2 linked regions of the Homo sapiens genome follow. The protein of the gene in region 2 purifies or fractionates together with the protein of the main gene of each other region. This does not show direct contact. Each region holds a gene or a part of one and is shown on either strand. Other genes may lie near its edges.

Evidence for each region. Proteins that work in one complex are often made in the same cells at the same time.
Region 1: the proteins of EPS15L1 (region 2) and GAPVD1 purify together in Homo sapiens (affinity purification with mass spectrometry, with the first as the bait; one large-scale study listed by BioGRID). This does not show direct contact.

Annotation. Positions count from the first base shown.
Region 1 is NC_000009.12:125,268,186-125,271,836, reverse strand, and holds part of GAPVD1 (GTPase-activating protein and VPS9 domain-containing protein 1), read right to left. Parts: intron 2,902-3,651; 5' UTR 2,853-2,901; intron 1-2,852. UniProt on the Homo sapiens protein: Acts both as a GTPase-activating protein (GAP) and a guanine nucleotide exchange factor (GEF), and participates in various processes such as endocytosis, insulin receptor internalization or LC2A4/GLUT4 trafficking.
Region 2 is NC_000019.10:16,398,849-16,402,499, reverse strand, and holds part of EPS15L1 (epidermal growth factor receptor substrate 15-like 1), read left to right. Parts: intron 1-14; coding exon 15-179; coding exon of another isoform or gene 180-194; exon of another isoform or gene 195-1,911; intron 1,912-3,651.

The sequences.
Region 1 (3,651 bases), on a different chromosome or scaffold from region 2:
GGAGGGCCAGGTGCGGTGGGTAAGCCCAGCACTCGAGGCAGGTGGATCACTTGAGGTCAGGAGTTCAAGACTAGCACGGCTAACACGGTGAAACAACGTCTCTACTAAAAATACAAAAATTAGCCAGGTGTGGTGGTGGGTGCCTGTAATCCCAGCTACTCGGGAGGCTGAGGCAGGAGAATCGCTTGAACCCGGGAGGCAGAGGTTGCAGTGAGCCAAGATCAGGTCACTGGACTCCAGCCTGGGCAAGAGAGCAAGAGTCTGTCTCAAAAAATAAAAAATAAAAAAATAAGTTAATCTAAGTCCGAAAAATATAAGTATTTGTTAAAATTAAGATTGGCAGGATATTACTACACTCTGATCCTAGGAAAAAGGAAAAAGACTAATATGCCTTGACTAATTTTGTTTTGTCTTTTTTCTGATAGAAAAACCACGTGGGTTTAATCCTTCCAAAGATTCACAGAAAATAAATAACAACACATAAGTTGGTAAGGAAAAAAAAAAGAACTAAACACGTCTGACAACATGCTTTCTACTAGTCTCCAGCGTGGGTGTACCGGCATTATAAGGGAGCAAGACCAAGCAAGCACCTTTTCGGACAGACATCTTAGATTAACAAGCAGACACAGTATCTGTTTATACACTTCCAAGAGTATGTTTAAAGCCTGTATTTTTTAAATGGCTTACAAAAAAAGGTATACAAAAACATAATTTTGGCCACACACACACACAAAGAGTATTAGAATTAAATTATACTTTTATACTTTTCTTTCAGACACAAGCATTTATCAGGTATCTGGTTCATCTTCAAACTCAAAAAAAAAAATTTATAGAAACCCCTATGTAGTCTGTTAAGTCCTTCACTCAACCATTCTTTTTTATTTTTTGAGATGGAGTTTCGCTCTTGTTGCCCAGGCTGGAGTGCAATGGCACGATCTCGGCTCATCGCAACCTCTGCCTCCCACTCCCAGGTTCAAGCGATTCTCCTGCCTCAGCCTCCTGAGTAGCTGGGATTACAGGCATGTGCCACTACACCTGGCTAATTTTGTACTTTTACCAGAAACGGGGTTTCTCCATGTTGGTCACGCTGGTCTCAAACTCCTGACCTCAGGTGATCCACCCGCCTCAGCCTCCCAAAGTGCTGGGATTACAGGCGTGAGCCACTGCGCCCGGCCTCAACCATTCACTTATATATATATTAAATATTAGAAACTGAAGTATCAAGATATTCACCACTTCCTCTGACCACTGTATTAGAGTTTTAAACTGGGTTTCAGCTTTGAAACAAAAAATAACCACCCTTCTGAAATTTTTTACAAAATCATAATACATATTGAAACATATCCAGAAAAGTTAGAAAATATAGGTAAGCATAAAGAAGGAAAGATTCTTTTGTTTTTGTTTTTTTGAGACAGACTCTAGCTCTGTCACCCAGGCTGGAGTGCAGGGGCACAATCTCAGCTCACTGCAAACTCTGCCTCCCAGGTTCAAGCAATTCTCCTGCCTCAGCCTCCCAAGTAGCTGGGACTACAGGTGTGCGCCACCACACCCAGCTAATTTTTGTATTTTTAGTAGAGACGGGGTTTCTCCATGTTGGCCAGGCTGGACTCAAACTCCTGACCTCAAGTGATTCGCCCACCTCGGCCTCCCAAAGTGCTAGGATTACAGGCATGAGCCACCATGCCTGGCCAGCAGTAAAGTTTAACTGACTATAATCTTAGTTACCAGAAATCAAACAGCTAGGTGCCTAAAACTTATTCTAAAATGTGTATACAGTAAAAAAAATTATTGGTCCTAGTTCCTTTACAAATTAAAACATCTGCCCAAGCATGGTGGCTTGCACCTATCCCAGCACTTCCAGAGGCCAAGGCGGGCAGATCACTTGAGAGTAGGAGTTCAAGACCAGCCTGGCCAACATGGTAAAACCCCGTCTCTACTAAAAATAAAAAAAATTAGCTGGACATGGTGGCAGCCACCTGTAATCCCAGCTACCAGGGAGGCTGAGGCAGGAGAATCACTTGAACCTGGAAGGCAGAGGTTGCAGTAAGCAGAGATCATGCCACTGTACTCCAGCCTGGGCAACAGAGTGAGACTCTGCCTCCAAAAAAAAAAAAAAAAAAAAAAAAGCCAGGCATGGTAGCTCATGCCTGTAATCCCAGCACAGCGGGTGGATCACCAGAGGTCACGAGTTCAAGACCAGCCTAGCCAACATGGTGAAACCTTGTCTCTACTAAAAATATAAAAAATGAGCAGGGCATGGTAGCACCTGTAATCCCAGCTACTCGGGAGGCTGCACTCCAGCCTGGGCGACAGAACGAGACTCCAACTCAAAAAAAAAACAAGAACAAAAACTAAAATATCCTGAAAACGATTACTTAAGGAGTTAAAGTTGAAAATAATTCTATGCAAGCACAAGTTTAGGTAGTTCAAGTGTAAAAAATACATAACTGAAATCCTTCTTGCTTAACAGAAAATTAACTCCAGAGAAGGAAATATGTATGACAAAAAAACAGCCTCCCAAAAGTTGAAGGAAAAAAAAACACTCAACTAAACATTTGAAAATTATTTTTTCAAGTACTAGTCTGTCCAAAGCAAATAAGAAGGACTCAGCTGGGCAAAGTAGCATGCTCCTGTATTCCCAGCTACTCAGGAGGCTGAGGCAGGAGGATCGCCCTGTTCAGGCCAGGAGTTTGAGGCTTCAGTGAGCTATGATGGCACCACTGCACTCTGATGACAGAGTGAGAATATGTCTCAAAAAAAAAGGATTCCACTTACATAAAACTTAAAAATTTGTAGCTGTAGGCAAACTTAAAAAAATTATTTTAAAAAAATATTTTTAAATCATACTTTACCTTTGAGATTCCTAGAATGTATAACCAACTCTCTCCAGTACACTTACCCCTAAAGAAAAAAAAAAGGAAAAAGGAAAAAATAATAAACTGAATGTCTTATCACTGGAATGTACCTACTTTCGCTATTAAACTACCTACAAACATTACAAGTAGCTGGGCGCAGTGGTTCATGCCTGTAATCCCAGTACTTTGGGAGGCCGAGGCAGATGAACTACTTGAACTCAGGAGTTTGAGACCAGTGTGGGCACCTCTACAAAAACTACAAAACTTGTATTTAAAACTCGTCTGGTCAAACAAAAATAAAATACAAAATACAAGTTAGCCAAGCATGGTGTCATGTGCCTGTGGTCCCAGCTACTCAGAAGGCTGAGGCAGGGGAATCTCTTGAGACAGGGAGGTGGAGGCTGCAGTGAGCTGTGATAGCGTTACTGCACTCCAGCCTGCATGACAGACCAAGACCTTGTCTCGAAAAAAAAAAAAAAAAAAAAACAATGTTAGGGGTAATTATTCCAAATAAACTAATGAAACTGAAGCATACATTTACAGAGCAGCAACTTTTGTATTGTTAGTTGCACCAACAAAAGATCAGTACATATTGTCACAATTTCCAGAACGCCATGATCAGGTAGTGTTACCATGTAAGGTAATAAGAACTATGTGCCATCACTGGAGACCAGCTCACAAACCCTCAGTGGAGCCAGCTGCGTAAAGTGAGAAGTGACAACATTGTGACGGTGGCTAAGAAAGCACCAGTAGAATAAAGTTCTTGGTTTTTTTTTGGGGGGGGGGGTTGTTTGTT
Region 2 (3,651 bases):
TCTTTGTTGCACAGGCAAGGAGCAAACTTTCCCAGCTGCATGAAAGCCGCCAGGAGGCCCACAGGAGCCTGGAGCAGTATGACCAGGTGCTCGATGGAGCCCATGGTGCCAGCCTGACCGACCTGGCCAACCTGAGCGAAGGCGTCTCCCTGGCAGAGAGGGGCAGTTTTGGAGCCATGGTAAAGGTTGAATAAACGTATTACAGTATGGGGCTCTGGTCCCCTGGTGTGACAGCAGAACATCCCACCCGCCAGATCTGTTCATGGCCAACGTTGGTTCCAGCCAAGTGCAGGCGGCTGTCTGTTGTTTTTGCTGCCACTTTGCGCGTTCACACCAGGCCTTGCAGCCTGGCACAGGTGGCCATGCTGAATCCTGGCTTCCAGAACAAAGTCCAAGATAGGCCTGGATCCTTTCAGAACCTGTTTTGAATGCCCTCCATCTCTGCGGAAGTATTTACATTGGGCCAACCACCCAAGTTCAGAGGGCTTCTCAAACTTAACCAAAATTGGATCAGTTTCTGCTCATTGTGGAAACCCCACATTCTACTAATCAGGGGGCAGGGGACATCTGAGGGGCATGTGTCTATGTGTATGTGTGTTTCCACAAGGAACACCTTGAAAAGCAAATGTGTTGCTAAAGATGAGGAAGTAATGGCAAGCAGCGCCCCAGGGTGTTGCTCTTTCAAGTAAGAATTGGCCTCTCCTGAAATTTTGGTTATGTTTAAAAACCTCTGCACTTTACTCTGACCTCATGACCCTGGAGTTGTGATCAGGCCTGGGGCAGGGGACTGTCGGCCCCTTACATTTTTGAGAGCTCTTGAGCCCCTGATACCAAGACAGGTGTGACCTTTTCCTTAGGTGGTCACATCCCCCCTGTTCACACCAGAGTCTGCCCCTGCAGCCTCGAACCTGGGGACATGTAGTTTCCCATTTCGTCTTGGTGCTGTTCCGGGAGCGGATGGGCCGGGCCGCGCATGTCTGGATGTTTCCTTGGTGCTCTGCTGCCTCCAGCAGCTCTCTCCGTGCTGCCACCCTCTCTCCCAGGGCTCCTCCCTGGAGCCCTTCTGCTCCTGGGCCTCTGTACGTCATGGATTCCTCTTCCTCCCTGGAATAAGAGTGAGCGCTCGTGCTCTCTAAACACCACACTTGCCTCTTTATGTTCAATGCTTGATGTGTTTCTTTTCTCAGCAGCCAAGTCCTCAGTCCCAAGGATTTATGGGGAAGCACACGCGTCCCCTGGGCTGCTGGGAAGGCACTGCTGGCGAGCTCATCTGTCTCTTGTGTCTGGCCCCCGCTGGGTGCACCGCCTCCCTCTTTCCTCCCATACTCTCTTTTCTCGTGGACTCGTAATGAGGTGGTTTCCATAGCCGCCCCCGGGCCCGTCATCATCAGCTTTATCGTCTAAATTTAAACGATGAGCATTCATCCTTCATGAGTTACGAGAAGCCAGAACTCCTCGCTTTGCTCCCTGGCTGTTCTTGGCGTGTGTGTTTCCGTCTCACAACCCGGCTCCTACTTTCCCCATCTGGCATTGTCCCCTGGCACCGCTTTTGGCTTGTCCTGCTCAGTCTTCGTTCAGGGAACAGCTTCCTCTTAAATGTCCCTTTTGCAGGTTTTTAGAAACCGGTTTTCTTGGATAAAAGTTGGCAGTGAAGTGGCAGTTTGCAAGTGGCCAGTGATTCCCCCAACTCCAAAGACAGATTTTTACCTTTCTGGTTATTTTTGTTCATCTTTTGGGCAGGGCAAAGGTTACCTGAGACACAATTACTTTGGGAATGTAGATTAAGATACGTTACATGGAAACTTGCAACTGGCATCCGAAAGAAAAACTGTTTTTATCCTGTTGTACAAATACAGTTTTTAAAGCATTTTTCTGGCTTGTTTCTATTTCTTAATAAATACTTGGAAGAGAGATTTTTGTTTACTCCTGAACACTTCAAGACTGCTTCAGAGCCGAGAGAGAGGTGTCTTAGTTCTCCCTTGTGGGTCGAAGTTGGGGGTTTTAGGTCCCTGAGAATAGTGTATCCACAGTGGTACATCTGGAACTTCCTATGTTTGGACAGTTCTACTCAGGTTACTAAATTCCATGTGAAGCTCACGCAGTGTGACTTTATCTCAAAAGTCAGGGGTTTTTTTTTTTTTTTGTTTTTGTTTTTTTTTTTTTGAGACGGAGTCTCGCTCTGTCTCCCAGACTGGAGTGCAGTGGCACAATCTCAGCTCACTGCAACCTCTGCCTCCCGGGTCCAAGTGATTCTCCTGCCTCAGCCTCCCGAGTAGCAGAGATTACAGGCACGTGCCACCATGCCCAGCTAATTTTTGTATTTTTAGTAGAGACGAGGTTTCACAGTGTTGCCCAGGCTGGTCTTGAACTCCTGACCTCAGGCAATCTGCCCGCCTCGACCTCCCCAAATGCTGGGATTACAGGCGTGAGCCACCTCACCCGCCAAAGTCAGGGTTCTTAAAGCCATATTTATTTCTTGTCTATCATCTGATTATGAGAATATTGACCTCTTGCTCACCATCCAATCAACTTATGGAGAGAAGCTAATAAATCATCCCAGACTTAGGCCTTACTGAGGACAGATTAAGAAAGGTTGATTGATCTGTCACATCCAGACCCAGTGGCATGCTGGAGCCAGTTTTTATTGACTTTCCAGAACCGATTATTAAATAGGAACTGGCCGGGCACAATGGCTCACACCTGTAATCCCAGTCCTTTGGGAGGCTGAGGTGGGAGGATTGCTTGAGGCCAGCTGCGTGCCACTGCACTCCAGCCTGGGTGACACAGCGAGACTCAATCTCTAAAAAAAAAAAAAAAACCCCAAAAAGCAAAAAACAGGAACTTGTGAGCTAGTTGCTTGGAAACTTGAAATCAACCATGATGAGACTGTTTACACCACAGGAATTGGCAGAAGCTCTAAACCAGGGCTTTTTTCTGAGAGAACTGATTCCCAGCACACCCCTGCTGCCCAGCACTCCTCTAAAGGGCGGGAATGTCACAGAAGCTTCTTCAGCCCCCTTTCAGAGTTGCCGTGTGTATTTCCTAAGAAGGGTACAACTTCACACTGGTTGCTGAACTTGTTCAAGATATTACATCTCTGCCAAGGGCCGTGTCATTCATCCTGGCCCTTGTCTGCTGTACTCGTGTCCCCCAAGTTGGCAGATGGGTCTGTTCTCCTTAGTAGGTGGTCTGCAAGGGGTAGAGTTGATGGTATCTTTGTAACAGGGAAATCTCGTTTCCCACTCTGATTCTGTGCAATGGAATCAAAACCACTATTAGTTACCCTGACCTCCTGAATCCTGCTGGGGTCTCAGGCTTCCCCTTGGAAGGGGAAGGAGTGATTGTGGCTTCAGGCCAATGACTCCTGAGAAAGTGATTGCAGGCCTGACTGTCAGTGCAGGGGGCTTGCAGCCAGCATTCCCAGAACCTCAGTCTCTTCTCTGCCATTGTTCACTGTTACTTGGCAGTCTTCCAAGTGACGACTGAAAACACTGAAAAAAAAAAACCTTATAAATAAATGCCAATTAAAAACTAAATAGAGCCAGGCATGGTGGCGAGTGCCTGTAGTCCCAGCTACTTGGGAGGCTGAAGCAGGAGGATCCTTGAGCCCGGGAGTTCTGGGCTGTAGTGTGCTATGCTGATTGGGTGTCT